Regions from separate parts of the Homo sapiens genome. Here region 2 is linked to region 1. The links come from fine-mapping of genetic effects on gene expression. A gene starts in region 1. The other region holds a variant in brackets. All regions are shown on one strand. Distances are between the middles of the regions. Region 1 holds the start of GRTP1 (growth hormone regulated TBC protein 1). Region 2 has its middle 29 kb from the start of GRTP1.

What was found. PIP is the estimated chance that this variant, and not a neighbour inherited with it, causes the effect.
Region 2: its variant is fine-mapped to the expression of GRTP1 in whole blood (TOPMed, PIP above 0.99).

The regions. Positions count from the first base shown.
Region 1 is chr13:113,362,802-113,365,699 of GRCh38, forward strand. It overlaps GRTP1 (growth hormone regulated TBC protein 1), which reads right to left and starts at 1,329. Exons shown (of 8, transcript NM_024719.4): 1 at 1,219-1,329; 2 at 961-1,109. The coding sequence starts at 1,250. RefSeq lists a silencer at 913-1,207 and enhancers at 2,195-2,888, 2,889-2,898.
Region 2 is chr13:113,391,895-113,394,792 of GRCh38, forward strand. No RefSeq gene overlaps it. Among named protein-coding and RNA genes, the nearest start is that of GRTP1, 29 kb to the left of the region's middle. RefSeq lists an enhancer at 1,569-2,110 and silencers at 2,028-2,377, 2,388-2,497. The variant G/A (reference allele first, on the strand shown) is at 1,533.

The DNA of each region.
Region 1 (2,898 bases):
GCCCAGCTGCCATTCACATCCCCCTTCTCAGGAAGCCCCCAGGACTCCCCTTTGACCCCACTTCTCTGAGTTCCTAGCTCCAGGGCACACTCCCACCAAGCCCTCACCCCAGGCAGACACTTCATTCATTCACTGAACACACAGGGAAGTCGCCTGGCACTGCCCCAGGTTCTGAGGACTGAGCAGTGAATGAAAAATCCGTTGCAGGGAGGAAGGGTTTTTGACTCCAGCAGGGGCTGTGCTGGGAAAGGCAGAAATGAGGAGGTGCCCTCCGCACAGGGAAGCCTGGGGCGCCCCGGAGGAGGGGGCCCTGCAGCTAACCCCGAGGCGGGCGGGCGGTCAGGCCGGTGCTCACCGCAGCAGTAGGAGGCCTGGGGTCGCGGAGGAGCGGCAGGTCGAGCAGGGCCCTGTGGGTCCCGTCACAAGGACGGAGTCTCGCTCTGTCGCCCAGGCTGGAGTGCAATGGCGCAATCTCGGCTCACTGCAACCTCCGCCTACTGGGTTCAAGCGATTCTCCTGCCTCAGCCTCCAGAGTAGCTGGGACTACAGGCAGGAGCCACCACGCCCGGCTAATTTTGTATTTTTAGTAGAGACGGGGTTTCACCATGTTGGTCAGGCTGGTCTCAAACTCCTGACCTCGTGATCCGCCCGCCTCGGCCTCCCAAAGCGCTGGGATTACAGGCGTGAGCCACCGCGCCCGGCATGGATCGAGTTTTGATCCATCCCGATATGGCTCCCTGCTGGGAGGGACGGGTCTCCTTCGCGTCCGACCCGCCGGCCCATCTCAAAGCGGGAAAACCGGTCCCTGCGGCTGCCCTAGCTCGGAGCCCGCAGCTTCGTCCCGACCTGCCCGGAAAGGTTCCTCCCCCTCCCTCCGCTCCGGGAGCCCGGACTTTGCCCGGCCCGTCCCAGCCCAACCCACCTGCGCCCTCGGGACCCACCTGCGCCCCCGGGACCCACCTGTCCGGCTCCTGGGGACGCCCCCGCCCTGCAGCAGCCGGGACCATTTGATCGCCCTGCGGGTGAGCGTGACCAGGTAGCTGGAGAAAAACTTCTCGTAGGCGGCGTCGTCGAAGTCCTCAGGCCGCTCGAATCCGTACGGGTCGATCCTGCAAAACCGAGAGAAGGAGGCCGGCGTCCCCGAAGTTTCCTCTGGGGGGTCGCGGGCCCGCGCGGGGACCGCAGCCGCCGGGGACGCCCGCACCCCGCGCCACACACCTGGGGACCCGCGAGCGCTCGGCGGGCTGCATGCGGGGAGGGAGGCGCGCACCGAGCGAGGCCAGCGGGTCCCAAGTTCGCCTCCCGGCTCCGGGGCGCTTAAGTCCTTCCGGCGGGACCGCGGGCGCGTGGGGGCGGGGCGGGGAGCGGAGAGGGGCGGGGCTGGAGGCGGGGGCGGGGGGGGGCAGGGCGGGGGGAGGGGCGGCTGGGGGCGGGGAGGACTTGGGGAGAGAGGAGGGGCAGGAGCGGGGGAGGGGCAGGGGAGCACCCAGGGCGGGGGAGGGGCGGGGCTGGGGGCGGGAGGACCTGGGGAGAGAGGAGGGGCAGGAGCGGGTGAGGGGCGGGGGAGGGCCGGGGGAGGGGCAGGGGAGCACCCAGGGCGGGGGAGGGGCGGGGCTGGGGGGGCGGGAGGACTTGGGGAGAGAGGAGGGTGGGGGCGGGGCGGGGCCTGCTCCCGGGGCTTCCGAGGCCGCGGCGTCCCGCGGGCAGAATCGGGGGCGCCTCCCGCAGAACCCCCGCGGCCTGGACCCGGGTGAGAGGAGCTTCTTCTGCGATTCCTTCAAACCTCAGTGCCTGGCCGACCCGACTCTGACACCTGACTCCTATTTTTATTTTATTTTTTATTTTCTCCGCTGCATTTCAAGGCCGAGACCAACACACAAATGAGAAGCCCCCAGGGGCGCCCGCCCGTTCCTGCCCCCCCAAACCAGGGACCGGGGTCCCCCCACCGGCGAGCCAGGCCTGGGAGAATCCGGGGCAGCTCTGGTTCCGAACGGCTTCTTCTCGGTCCGCATCCAATGACATTGTCCTGAGATTTCAGCTGCTTTTCGTGTCCGGGAGGCCCCGGAAATTTGCCAGAACTGCAGATTTTGAATTTTGCTCTGGCGACGTGGCAAAGGGGAGCCCCCAGACGTGAGGCGCTGGGGCGACCTCGCCCTGGGTCCCCCAGGGGTCTGGAGCGGGGGCTCCTCCGACAGGCCTCTCCCCGCCTGTAATTTAGGCCCAGGGCGACCTGGACAGGCCCCAGGAGGAGGCCGTCCCCGGACTCCAGACGCACTTTCCTGTGAGAAGCAGCCCGGCCTCGTCTGGGTGAGGCGAGGATCACAGGCTCAGCGTCCCCTGCGCGTCCGTCAGGGCCTTTCGGAACCAACTTGGGACCTTCCCATGGGTGTTTCCGGAATGTTCCATGCGAGCGCCACCCAGGAGCCTGGTCAGCAGCGTGTGGAACGGACCGGTCCCTAAGTGCGGACTCCCGCCTCTGCCTTTCACCCTTCTCCAGCCCTTGCAAGACCGGGGGGCGGGGTGGGGGTCAGTGCCCAGCGGAGCAGAGCCCCCGACACGGTTCCTCCCGTTCCTAGTCTGCTGGTTCTGGGAACTCCCCAAGCTTTCAGCCCAGCTCCTCAGCACTGGCCTTTGGTAACACGCGGCGTCCCTCATTTGAAAGATCACACAGCCCCCACTCTACGGTCTGACCTCCTTGGGATGTTTAGACCCAAGCCAGGAGACAGGGCCATAGCCTCCTGCCCCTCGGCCTACGGGTGCCCCACAGTCCAGGACTGACAGGTGGGCGTCCGTCCCCAGGGTCTTCGAACCCCGTCTGGGCTCCTCTCTGCCTAAGTCAGTGACTCCCTGAACCCCTCTCGGGCTCTAACTGACGCCCGAATTTCCTATATCGCATCC
Region 2 (2,898 bases), 29 kb after region 1:
CTAAGAAGAAACTCATCTCTGTCCATCAAAGGGGGAAATGGTGAGGGCTGTATGCCCTGGGAGCGGCCACCCTCTCAGAAGACACAGAAACAGAGCACTTTAACCTCCTTCTATCAAAGTCCTAGAAGAGGAAGGTGTGCTTTAAAAACAGACTCTTCTCATGAATCCTGTTGAAGTCTCACTCACTCTGTTGCCTAGGCCGGTGTGCAGTGGCACCATCTCAGCTCACTGCCAGCTTTGCCTTCTGGGTTCAAGCAATTCTCCTGTCTCAGCCTCCCAAGTAGCTGGGACCACAAGTGCCTGCCACCATGCCCAGCTAACTTTTTGTAGAGATGGGGTTTTGCCATGTTGGCCAGGCTGGTTTTGAACTTTTGAGCTCAAGCGATCCACTCGCCTCAGCCTCCCAAAGTGCTGGGATTACAGGTGTGAGCTACCGCGCCCGGCCTTTTTTTTTCTTTCTTTTTTCTTTTATTAAGACAGGGTCTTGCTCTGTTGCCCAGACTGGAGTGCAGTGGTACAATCTTGGCTCACTGCAGCCTCAACCTCCTGGGCGCAACTCATCCTCCTGCCTTAGCCTCCCAAAATGCTGGGATTACAGGCATGAGCCTCCGTGCCTGGCAGTGGGATCCTCTTTACCTGAACTGCCCAGGGACCTCCATAAGTATCCCTGGCTGGGGGCCGTGGGTCACGCCTGTAATCTCAGCACTTTGGGAGGCTAAGGTAGGAGGATTGCTTGAGCCCAGGAGTTCAAGACCAGCCTGGACAACATAGCAAGACCCTGTCTCTACAAAAAAATACAAAAATTAGTGCATACCTGTGATCCCAGCTACTCAGGAGGCTGAGGCGGGAGAATTGCTTGAGCCCAGGAGGTTGAGGCTGCAGTGAGCCATGATTGCACCACTGCACTCCAGTCTGGGCGATAAAGTGAAACCCCGACTCTTAAAAAAAACGGGCTGGGCACGGTGGCTCACGCCTGCAATCCCAGAACTTTGGGACGCTGAGGCCGGCGGATCACCTGAGGTCAGGAGTTCGAGACCAGCCTGACCAACATGGAGAAAACTCCATCTCTGCTGAAAAAAAAAAATTAGCCAGGTGTGGTGGCACATGCCTATAATCCCAGCTACTCGGGAGGCTGAGGCAGGAGAATCGCTTGAACCTGGGAGGTGGAGGTTGCAGTGAGCCGAGATCGCGCCATTGCGCTCCAGCCTGGGCAATAAGAGTGAAGCTTGGTCTCAAAAAAAAAAAAAAGTATCCCTGGCACCTTCTCACAGACAGAACAGGGAAAAGGAGGGGCGGTTTACATCCCTGTGGAGCACAGCAAACCCACACAATGAGCCTTTCAGGTGTGGGGGGCAGGAGCAGGGCGGGGGCTGTCTCCCAGGGACCATCAGTCGGTTGGCTCAGGGGCTCAGGAGCCCAGGCCCGATGCCAGGAAGCTTCTCACCCCTAAGGAGAGGACACGCAGTCAGTCCGACTGGCAAAGTGGCCGGATCAGCGCCTGGCTGTGCCACCCCACATGGAGTGCCACACGC[G/A]GTCACAACAGCCCCATGACGTAGGTCCCAGTATTACTATTTTAGGGAAGACTGTGGTACACGCACCCGGACACACAGTTGCACATATGGCCACACAGGCCTCCACCTCTACTACCCAGACAAGTGCCCCAGTGCGCATCACACATGCACATGGGTGTGTACACAGCCTGCCCAGACACAGCCCTCCACAACACAGGGACCCACCCATGCACACACGCGTGTGCACACACACCAAGCAGACACGGCCCCTACACAACACAGGGACCCACCCATGCACACACGCGTGTGCACACACACCAAGCAGACACAGCCCTCCACAACACAGGGACCCACACATGTACACACTAAGGAAATGTGGAAACACTACGTGACCTCCGGTGGCAAGGCCATGGCTGGAAGCCCTGCAGCCTCTCCGGCTTCCAGGTCCTGATGCCAAGGCTGCCCCTCCCAGAATCCACGAGGAGGTCACCGTCCCCGCTCCGCACCAGGGAGGGGCTCCAGAAGCCCGGAGGCCAGCGCCGAGGTCCCCGCACGTACGCCTGTGTCCCCGGCTCTGGGGAAGGCAACCGTCCCTTAGGGGGCCGGGAACCTGCGCGCCGCCCCGACTCCCGCCCACCCCGGCGGCTCCCGGCGGCTCCCGGCGGCGTCCGGATGTGGCAGCAGCTCGCGGGCCGGGGCTTCCTCTTGCAGCAGCCGCCGCCCGGGAGGCCGGCAGCGCCCCCTGGCGGACTCAGGCAGGAGGCGTCCGGCGAGGCGGGCGCGGGGTAGGCGGGCGCGGGACGGTGCAGCCCGAGGCCTGTCCCTGCAGGTGCAGGAGGGACCCGTCGCTCCCCTGCGCACCGAGGGGGCGACAACCCCTCCCAGAGACCTGCTGCCCGCGGAGCCTCCCCCAGTGACTCGTGCGGTCCCCAAAGGAGAGGCGGGAAGCCGAGTCCTGGAGAAGCCTGGAGACAATGGGCAACAGGGGCATTGGGCCTCCGTCCAGCCCCCGCCAGCGCCCCAGGGTCACACATAGGCCTTTATTTTCTGATCCTGAAAGTGATGCAAGTGCATTTAAATTAACGCAGAAAGCAGTGACAGATAACGACGGGAAAACACACCTACACATCGGGTGTTCGTGGATAACCACTGCTCACCTTTTTTCGCGTTTCTCTTTCTTTGCCCCCTTCACACGTATTTACATATTTGAATCTACTATTTTATACTGGATTTTTTTTTTCTTTTTGAGGTGTAGCTTCACTCTTGTTGCCCAGGCTGGAGTGCAATGGCGCCATCTCGGCTCACTGTAACCTCTGCCTCCTGGGTTCAAGCGATTCTCCTGCCTCAGCCTCCTGAGTAGCTGGGATTACAGGCGTCCGCCGCCACC